Regions from separate parts of the Homo sapiens genome. Here region 1 is linked to region 2. The links come from fine-mapping of genetic effects on gene expression. Tissue or cell type: whole blood. Region 2 holds a variant in brackets; the other region holds the start of a gene. All regions are shown on one strand. Distances are from middle to middle.

Evidence for each region. PIP is the estimated chance that this variant, and not a neighbour inherited with it, causes the effect.
Region 1: R3HDM2 starts here. The variant in region 2 is fine-mapped to the expression of R3HDM2 in whole blood (TOPMed, PIP 0.98).

The regions. Positions count from the first base shown.
Region 1 is chr12:57,427,948-57,433,068 of GRCh38, reverse strand. It overlaps R3HDM2 (R3H domain containing 2), which reads left to right and starts at 2,026. Exons shown (of 24, transcript NM_001394031.1): 1 at 2,026-2,349. R3HDM2-DT (R3HDM2 divergent transcript) reads right to left here and starts at 1,953. Exons shown (of 2, transcript NR_185976.1): 1 at 1,639-1,953. RefSeq lists a silencer at 2,125-2,594 and an enhancer at 2,775-2,884.
Region 2 is chr12:57,349,104-57,354,308 of GRCh38, reverse strand. All of the region lies in intron 2 of R3HDM2 (R3H domain containing 2), which reads left to right. Among named protein-coding and RNA genes, the nearest start is that of R3HDM2, 79 kb to the left of the region's middle. The variant C/G (reference allele first, on the strand shown) is at 3,131.

The DNA of each region.
Region 1 (5,121 bases), 79 kb before region 2:
TCCCTGTCTCCTTCTTTTTTGCCCTTAAAAATGTGCTTGTAGGCTGGGCGTGATGGCTCACGTCTGTAATTCCAGCACTTTGGGAGGCTGAAGTGGGCAGTTCACTTGAGGTCAGGAGTTCGAGACGAGCCTGGCCAGCATGGTGATACCCCATCTGTACTAAAAATACCAAAGAAAAATAAAAAAATAAATAAAATAAAAATAAGCCGGGCGTGGTGGCACATGCCTGTAGTCCCAGCTACCTGAGAGGCTGAGGCAGGAGAATCACTTGAACCCGGGAGGTGGAGGTTGCAGTGAGCTGAGATCATGCCACTGCACTCCAGCCTGGGCGACAGAGCAAGACTCCGTCTCAAAAAAAATAAAAAAAAATCTGGAACTTTGGTTTCATTATTGTGCCTCAGGTTTCCTCATCTATAAAACAGGTATAATAATAGTACCTATTGTATTGAGGATTTGATACTAACAATAGATGTAGAATGCTACACATTTTATATTGTACTTACATACACATAATACAAATATTAGCTATTATTTCCTACTGGTCATCACTGCCTGGTCTGGAACTCCTGAGCTCAAATGATCCACCTGCCTTGGCCTCCCAAAGTGCTAGGTGTGAGCCACTGCGCCCGGCCAAGACAAAAAGTTTAAATCGTGGTGAAAAGTGGCAGGTTAGATCAGTTCAGTTCAGTTGTATTTTTCTTCCCCCGTTGTTGTTCTCTAGAGGGTTGAGAGAATTTGGGGGCAGGAGGCAGTGATGACCAGGAGAGAGGGCTGGGCAAGGTGGCTCACACCTGTAATCCCAGAACTTTGGAAGGCCGAGGCGGGTGGATCACCTGAGGCCAGGAGTTCGAGATTAGCCTGGCCAACATGGCAAAACCCCGTCTCTACTAAAAATACAAAAAATAGCCGGGTGTGATGGTGCGTGCCTGTAGTCCCAGCTACTCCGGACGCTGAGGCAGGAGAATCACTTGAACCTGAGAGGTGAAGGTTGTAGTGAACCGACATTGCACCACTGCAATCTAGTTGCCTGGGTGACAAAGCGAGACCCCATCTCAAAATAAATAAAACAAACAAACAAACAAACAAAAAACGCCAACCAACCTGGAACTTGCTCATCCTTGAAGGAAAGATGAACTTCATGCCTCTATGACTTTGCTGGAATCTCCATTCTTACCTCTCTAGTGAACTATTTATAGTCTCAAGATTAGCTGGAGTTTCACCTGTAGTTTCTCTGTAACTTACTCAATCTCTTTTACCGCTAAGAACGAATTGCTGTTCCTTGTGTTTCCATAGCACATTTAAACCTTTCTATTATAGCACTTAAATTGTACTATAATTATTTGACTTTTTTTGCCTACCGCAGTTTCTGTCACAAGGTAAATATTTAATGGTCGAATTCTACAAAAGACTACATTGCTTCTTTGAGGGAGTTTGGTCAGTAAATTATCCACACACACATAATCAATAACTAAATTGATTCTGCCTAGAATGGACAAAACGGGGGAGGCTGGACATTTAAGACGATTTTTGAGAACTGTATCTTAGAGAGGGGATGATGGTAAGAATGTGATCTTAATAGGACAGACTGAGTTCCTCCTAGGTCGGTTTTTTTCATCTTTACGTAAAATGGACATTTACCTGCTCAACTATAGTTATCCACGTATGCAACAAATACCGAGTGTACGTTCTTTTGGTACAGGAGTTACTGCCCTAAGTGAAAGTGCTCTGTAAATGGAAATTACTTTAGAATGATCACTATTAGTATTATATTGAAATCCAGGGTATTCTATCTGACAGACTTGAAGGGTTTAAGGAGGACCGAGGCTCCCAGTGACTCCGGATTGGTGTCCTGACACAGGTAACGCGGAAGGAGGAGAGGGCGAGCGAGCGAGTGCGAGTGCGCGCGCGCCGGCGGGAGTGCGTGCGGCAGGCGGTAGGCCCCGCAGGGCTGCTGAGGGGCACGCGGGAAGCCAGGAAGCAGGGACGGCCGGAACGCAGGACGAGGTGACGACAACGCCGGACGTAGTGACGTAGCGCGCAGCCGCAGCGGGGGGCGGACTCTGGGCTTTTCTTCCCCTTCTGATTTTCCCCTCCCCCCTTTTCTCCCTTTCCGGGTTTGGTTCCCCCCTTTTCTTCCCCTCTCCCCCCTCCTTCCCAAGCCCCTTTCCCCTCCCCCGTCCCAGTCCCCCCTGCTTCCCAGCCCTCGGCCCCGGGGAAGCCCCGGCCGAGAAAAGCCCGCCCCCAGAAGCGCGCCGCCGCCGGCCGTCGGGGCCGAGCCGCAGCCGAGCGGCCGTGGGCCCGGGCGGCGGGCGGAGACGTGGGCGCCCTCCCCGCCAAGGCCCGTGCGAGGTGAGGCCACCTCCCGGCCGAGGGGGCGGGCGGCCCGGACGGCCTGTGGGGAGGGGGCGTGGCGGCCGCACGGGCGGGCGCGAGGAGGCCCCGCGGCCTGGGTTCCTCGCGCCCGGCAGCCGGTCCCGGGGACGATGGGTCAGGGTCGGATGGCCGCGGGAAGGACTGCTCCAAGTGTGCGCTGCTGGAGAGAAGCTGGGGGCGCGGGGCGGAGGGCGGCGGTGCGGGGGCAGGGGGGTGGCGCCACCTGTGGCCTTTGCGGGGTGACCTAAAAACTATTGCGCCCTTCCAGTGCTTCGGGGTGGCTAGCTCCGTGTGTTTCTTGGGTGGCGGTTTTCCTTCGAGCGTGGAGCATGGAAAAATAGGACGGAGAGGTGTAGAAGTGTTTAAAATCATGCTGGTGTCCAGGTTTCTTACAGGGACGGGGATTTGAGTTGGCACATACAGGGAGATGTTTCTATAGCTTAAAACTTGGGCCTACACTAAGCTCATAACTACTCGAGCCCCTGAAAACGCTTCGATTCGTTTTCCCGTAGAGCTAACATTTTTCAACATTTGTGGCCATTAAGTCTCGGAACTACCAGGAATACTGACTTAGAGTGAATTGTCATTGGATAATGATGAGAAATGACCGAATAACAATCCCAGAACTGCGTTAAAACGGAAGAAAGAAAAGTGGAAAAGTTTGAATTCAGATCCCAGTTGGATGAATATCCTTGTACATAATGTTGTTCAAATAGATAACTAAGATTGAGAAGCCTGAGTCCTGTCTGATATGCGTAAGCCACGTGGAGACTCAAGGAAGGAGGAAAGTGACAGGTTTCACTTCAGGAATATCACAAATTCCTAGCATTTTCTTGTATTTTTAGATAGATTTGCAGTTGAATTATTTGTGGCTCTTCTTCCTAATGCTTTTTTTTGTTGTTGTTCCACCAATATTCCCCCCCCACCCCCGCCCCCCTTTTTGTTGCTGGGGTATCAAGACAAAAGGTTGTATTTTGTTTTTTGAGACAGGGTCTCAGTCTGTCACCCAGAATGGAGTGTAGTGGTTCCTTTTCGGCTCAATGCAACCTCTGCCTCCTGGCCTCAAGCCGTCCTCCTACCTCAGTCCCCCAAGTAGCTGGGAGTACAGGCATGAGCCACCACTCCTGGCTGATTTTTGTAGAGACGGGTTTCACCTTGCTGCCCAGGCTGGTCTGGAACTCCTGGGCTCAAGTGATCCACCTGCCTTGGCCTCCCAAAGTGGTAGGCTTGAGCCACCGCGCCGGGAAAGACAAAAAGTTTAAATAGTGGTGAAAAGTGGCCGGTTAGATTAATTCAGTTCAGTTTTTAGTTGTATTTTTCTTACCCTGTTGCTGTTCTCCAGAGAGTTGAGAGAAAAGATAACTTTTTTCTTGAAGGCCTGATGAACTCCTAACAAGTTAAATTTCAGAGTTGAAGTTCCATTTGTCTTTGTGTCCATTATATGATTAGTAGAGCTTCACAATTTTTTTTTCGTAGGGATGGGATCTTGCTATGTTGCCCAGGCTGGTTTTGAACTCCTGGCCTCAAGTGATCCTCTGGCCTCAGACTCCCAAAAGCACTGGGATTACAGGCGTGAGCCATTGCTCTTGGCAGAGCTTCACAATGTAAAGTTTTAAAAAAATTTGACAAATAAAAATAGCATGCCTGACTGGCCGGGCACGGTGGCTCATGCTGTAATCGCAGCACTTTGGGAGGCGAAGGCAGGTGGATCACCTGAGGTCAGGAGTTTGAGACCAGCCTGGCCAACATGGTGGAACCCCGTCTCTACTAAAAATACAAAAAGTAGCCAGGCGTGGTGGCAGGCACCTGTAATCTCAGCTTCTTGGCAGGCTGAGGTGGGAGAATCATTTGAACCCAGGAGGCGGATTTTGCAGTAAGCCAAGATCGTGCCACTGTACTCCAGCCTAGGCAACAGAGCGAGAGACTGTCTCAAAAAAAAAAAAAAAATAATAGCATGCCTAATATTTTTTAATGGAAAATTAAGACAGGAGATGGCTTCCTTTCTCTTTCAAAATAAAAACCAATGTTACTTTTTGTTGTTGTTGTTCTTTCTCGCTATGTCACCCAGGGTGGAGCGCAGTGGTGCAATCTCGGCTCACTGCAAGCTCTGTCTCCTGGGTAAATGCCATTCTCCTGCCTCAGCCTCCTGGGTAGCTGGGACTACAGGTGCCCCCCCACCACGCCCCCCACCACACCCCCCACCATACCCGGCTAATGTTTTGTATTTTTAGTAGAGACGGGTTTCACTGTGTTAGCCAGGATGGTCTCGATCTCCTGACCTCGTGATCTGCCCACCTCGGCCTCCCAAAGTGCTGGGATTACAGGCATGAGCCACCGCGCCCAGCCAAACCAATCTTAGCTTTAAAGCTCTAGATCTGTGGCACCCTTTTCCCCTAACATGCACACTGGCCTCTGGCTGTTCCTTGAGCACACTAGGCACACTTCTGCCTCAGGGTCTATGCTCTTGTTTCCTCTTCCTGAGTTACTTTTCTCTTACAAAGCTGTGTAAGAGCATAGCCTGTCTGTCCCCTCATCTCCTTCAGGTCTTTACTCAAATTTCACTCTTTTTTTTTTTTGAGATGGAGTCTCGCTCTGTCACCCAGGCTGGAGTGCAGTGGCATGATCTCGGCTCACTGCAACCTCTACCTCCTGGGTTCAAGCGATTCTCCTGCCTCAGCCCCCTGAGTAGCTGGGATTACAGGTGCCTGCCACCATGCCTGGCTAATTTTTTTGTATTTTTAGTACACA
Region 2 (5,205 bases):
AACAACAAGAAAAAAAACCCATCAAACAAAAAGTCTGGCCATACCAAATGTTGATGAGACTGTGGAGCAGTTAGAATTCTCATGTTACTGATAAGAAAGATGGTACAACCACTTTGAAACAGACTTAAAAAAAAAAATTAGACCAGGCGTGGTGGCTCACGCCTGTAATCCCAGCACTTTGGGAGGCCAAGGTGGGCAGACACCTGAGGTCAGGAGTTCAAGAGGTCAGGAGTTCAAGACCAGCCTGGCCAACATGGTGAAACCCTGTCTCTACTAAAAATACAAAAATTAGCTGGGTGTGGTGGCGTGCACTTGTAATCCTAGCTACTCAGAAGGCTGAATCAGAAAATTGCTTGAACCCAGAGGTGGAGGTTACAGTAAGCCGAGATTGCACCACTGCACTCCAGCCTGGGTGACAGAGCGAGACTCTTTCTCAAAAAAATAAAAAAATAAAAAAAACATATTTTTACCACAAGAGACACCCATTCTTCCCTCTATGTCTTTATGCAAGAGAAATGAATCCATATGTTCATGTCAAGATTTATATATGATTTTTTATACCTGCTCTATTTGTAATAGTTAAAAATTGGAAATAGCTGGGTATGGTGGCACACACCTATAGTTCCTAGCTATTCGGGAGGGTGAGGTGGGAGGATCCTGGAGTCCAAGAGTTTGAGGCCAGCTTGAGCAACATAACAAGACCCCATATCTAAAAAAAATAAAAATAAATAATAAATGGGAAACAACCCAGATATTCCTCAACACATAAATGAATAAATTATGCTTTATCTATTCAATGGTGTATAACTCAACAATAAAATTAACAATTTATTGATATATCAGTACATGGAAATTGTAAGACATTTTTTAAAGTTTTTGGTGGTCTGTTGGGTGTGGCATGAAATTTTTGGTTTTAATTTGTATTTTCCTAATTCCTAGGAGAAGATGAATTTATCTTTATTATTAGTCATTTGAGTTTCTAATTTTTAGTCTTTGGCAAGTTTTCTAATTACTTACTTGTCATTTTCTTTTTGGTTTGTAATTCTTTGTATATACTAAGTACCAGTTATTTGTCCTATATGTATGTTTCACAAAAAAACTTGCAGTCTGTAGCTTATTTTTTAACTGTTTATGAATTTTTAAAATTGTATAGAAGTTTTCAATTTTGAAGTCATCAAAAGTTTCAATGTTTTTTCTGATTTGTGCTAATTCTTATTCAAGAAATCCTTCTTTATGCTGAGGTCATTAAGAATCTTGTATATCTGTTTTTGAACATTTTAAGGATTTACTTTTCATGTGTAGGTCTTTAATCTACCAGAAATTTATATTTGTGTGTGGTGTGAATATGGCTCTGATTTTTTTTCTATGTGGATAACTAATTGCCCCAACACATCTGGTACCGTATTTAATTATGCTTCTAATATAATCAAGTTTTGGGTCATGTACAGGATCTCTATTCTTTTCCCATTGATCTGCTCAATTCCCAGGTCTTAATTACTATATAAGAAGCTTATGCCTTGGATGCCATGGTTCACGCCTGTAATCCCAGCACTTTAGGAGGCTGAGGTGGGTGGATCATTTGAGGTTAGGAGTTTGAGACCAGCCTGGCCAACATGGTGAAACCCCATGTCTACAAAAAAGTACAAAAATTAGCTGGGTGTGGTGGCGCGCACCTGTAGTCCCAGCTACTCACGAGGCTGAGACAGGAGAATTGCCTGAGTGCAGGAGGCAGAGGTTGCAGTGAGCCGAGATCATGCCACTGCACTCCAACCTGGGTGACAGAGTGATGATCCATCTAAAAAAAAAAAAAAAAAAAGCGTTTGCCTAGTGTGGCAGATTTTCCTTCCTTGTTCATCTTATTTAAACTCCATTGACATTTTTGTTGGAATTGAATTGAATTTAAAGATCGACATGGGGGAACTGACTTTGCAATATTGAGTCATTCTAGCCAGAGATATGATCTATGACTCCATTTGTTTGGGTTATTTATACCCTTCAATAACATTTCATAAGTTTTTCATTAAAGATCTCTTTTCCCTAGATTTGTTTTTTTTTTTTTTTTTTTTTGAGATGGAGTCTTGCTGTGTTGCCCAGGCTGGAGTGCAGTGGCACCATCTTGGCTCACTGCAACCTCCACCTCTTGGGTTCAAGTGATTCTCCTGCCTCAGCCTCCCATACCCTAAGTAGTTTTGTTAATTATTGTATTTCCTTTCTCTACTGTTAGAATATAGATACACTGTTAATTTTAGTACATTGATCTTCATTTCAGCTGAATTCTTTTAAATGCTAAATGTTTGGTACTTAGATTTTCTTGGGTACTAGACAGCCACATTGGTTAAATTTAGGAAAGTTTTGTTTCTTTTTAATTACACCTTCTTTGTTTTTTATGTCTTACTGCTTTTGTCTAAGCCTTCCCATTCAATAATGAATAGAGATGGTGATGGTGAGCATCCGTATATCATTCCTGACTCTAATGATGACTTTTTTTCATATAAACTCAGTAATAACAATATTGACTCCAATTTATTAAGTTCCTACTCTGTGCCATGTACAAATCACACAGTGTGTTAGTGATTTGTTTCTAATTTTTGTAATATCTTGCAAGACAGATAGAGTTACCCCATTTTATATATGACATTCAAACAGGTAGAGTAGTAGTTTGCCTGTTACATAATTAGTGAGTAGAAAATCTGGGAATTAGTTATTGTTAGTTTTTGTGCTTTACCTAGAGAAAATCTCTCAGTGGGGAGAAGTAGAAAGACTTGCTAAAATGAAATGCTGACATTTTCTTTATGAATTCTCCATCTGCTACATGCTATAGAAATGGCACATACTCCCTCAGTACTCACCATCCACAGGCCTTACTTATTGCTTCCTTTTATATCCTGTTGATGTGAATGAACACTATTGTTTTTTTAGTCTTAATTATTGCTTAATTCAGATTATGTCTTATTCATCACATAAGCAGATTTTGCCTTCTACAGCAGCAGCTCTTCGTTCTACATCTCTTTTTTCATTCTTTAGACAGTTTTTTATTTTAATCAGACAGGATCTTGCTCTGTCGCCTAGGCTAGAGTACAGTGGTGCCATCACGGCTTGCTCCAGCCTCAACCTCTTGGGCTCAAGCAGT[C/G]CTTCCACGTCAGCCTTCTGAGTAGCTGGGACCACAGGTGAGCACCTAGCTAATTTTGTATTTTATTTTTATTTTTTGAGACAGAGTCTCACTCTGTCGCCCAGGCTAGAGTACAGTGGCACCCATGGTCTTGGCACACTGCAACCTCCACCTCCAAGGTTCAAGCAATTCTTTGCCTCAGCCTCCTGAGTAGCTGGGATTACAGGCACCCGCCACCATGCCCAGCTAATTTTTGTATTTTTAATAGAGATGGGGTTTCACCATCTTGGCCAGGCTGGTCTTGAACTCCTGACTTTGTGATTCACCCTCCTTGGCCTCCCAAAGTGCTGGGATTACAGGCGTGAACCACTGCACCTGGCCAACGCCTAGCTAATTTTTAAATTTTATGTAGAGACAGGGTCTTCCTATGTTGCCCAGGCTGGTCTTGAACTCCTGAGCTCAAGCGATCCTCCTGCTTTGGCCTCCCAAAGTGTCGAGATTACAGGCATGAGTTCTCATTCTTTAGACATTTGATGTAGTTGTTTGTTTTTGGTTTTAGTTATTTTTTGAGTGAGGTCTTGCTCTGTTGCCCCATCTGGAGTGCAGTGGTACAATCATAGCTCTCTGCAGTTTGAACTCCTGGGCTCAAGGTATCCTCCCGTCTCAGCCTCCCAAGTAGCTGGGATTAGAGGGTAACCATCACGCCTGACCATTTGATGTAGTTTTATTTGCCATCCAGATATGGGAGAAGTTTTGGAAGTTTATCTCAGGCTTCATCTCTCTTCACTCATGTAAGCTTTTTTTTCTTTTCAAAAATTTTCTTATGGGAATTTAAACATAAATAACAATAGAGAATAGTTTAACTTCCATGAATCCAACACCTAGTTTCAACACAGTCTCCTCCCATTTTTTATTGTTGTTATTAAAGTTGGATTATTTTATTTATTAGTTTAATGTATTTTATTTTATTTTTATTTTATTAATTTGTTTGAGACAGAGTCTTGCTCTGTCGCCCAGTCTGGTGTGCAGTGGCGCGATCTCGGCTTACTGCAATCTCTGCCTCCCGGGTTCAAGCGATTCTCCTGCCTCAACTTCCCAAGTAGCTGAGACTGTAGGCATGTGCCACTATGCCTGGCTGATTTTTGTATTTTTAGTAGAGATGGGATTTCACCATGGCCAGGCTGGTCTCAAACTCCTGACCTCAGATTATCTGCCCACCTCGGCCTCCCAAAGTGCTGGGATTACAGGCGTGAGCCATTGTGCCCGGTTGAGTTTAATGTATTTTAATAACAAACTTACAGGAACAGCACAGAAGACAGACAACATTAAAACCATGTACTGGCCAGGCGCTGTGGCTCACGCCTGTAATCCCAGCACTTCGACGGGCTGAGGCAGGTGGATCACGAGGACAGGAGATGGAGACCATCCTGGCTAACATGGTGAAACCCCGTCTCTACTAAAAATACAGAAAATTAGCCGGGCGTGGTGGCACATGCTTGTAGTCCCAGCTACTCGGGAGGCTGAGGCAGGAGAATGGCTTGAACCCGGGAGGCGGAGGTTATAGTGAGCTGAGATCGTGCCACTGCACTCCAGCCTGGGCGACAGAGCGAGACTCTGTCTCAAAAAAAAAAAACAACCAAAAAACAAAAAGCAAACCATGTACTTAGATGTAGGACAACTGAATTAGAAAAATATGGTGAATGGATGGAATTAACTGCATGATAAAAATGCTGCAAACACTATTTAGTTGCCAACAGTAAGAAATTTACTTGATTTTCTTGATTTTCTTTTCTTTTTTTTTTTTTTTTTTTTTTTTTTTTGGAGACGGAGTCTCGCTCTGTCGGCAGGTTAGAGAGCAGTGGCGAGATCTCGGCTCACTGCAAGCTCTGCCTCCCGGGTTCACGCCATTCTCCTGCCTCAGCCTCCCGAGTAGCTGGGACTACAGGCACCTGCCACCACGCCCGGCTAATTTTTTGTATTTTTAGTAGAGTCGGGGTTTCACCGTGTTAGCCAGGATGGTCTCAATCTCCTGACCTCGTGATCTGCCCGCCTCAGCCTCCCAAAGTGGTGGGACTACAGGCGTGAGCCACCATGCC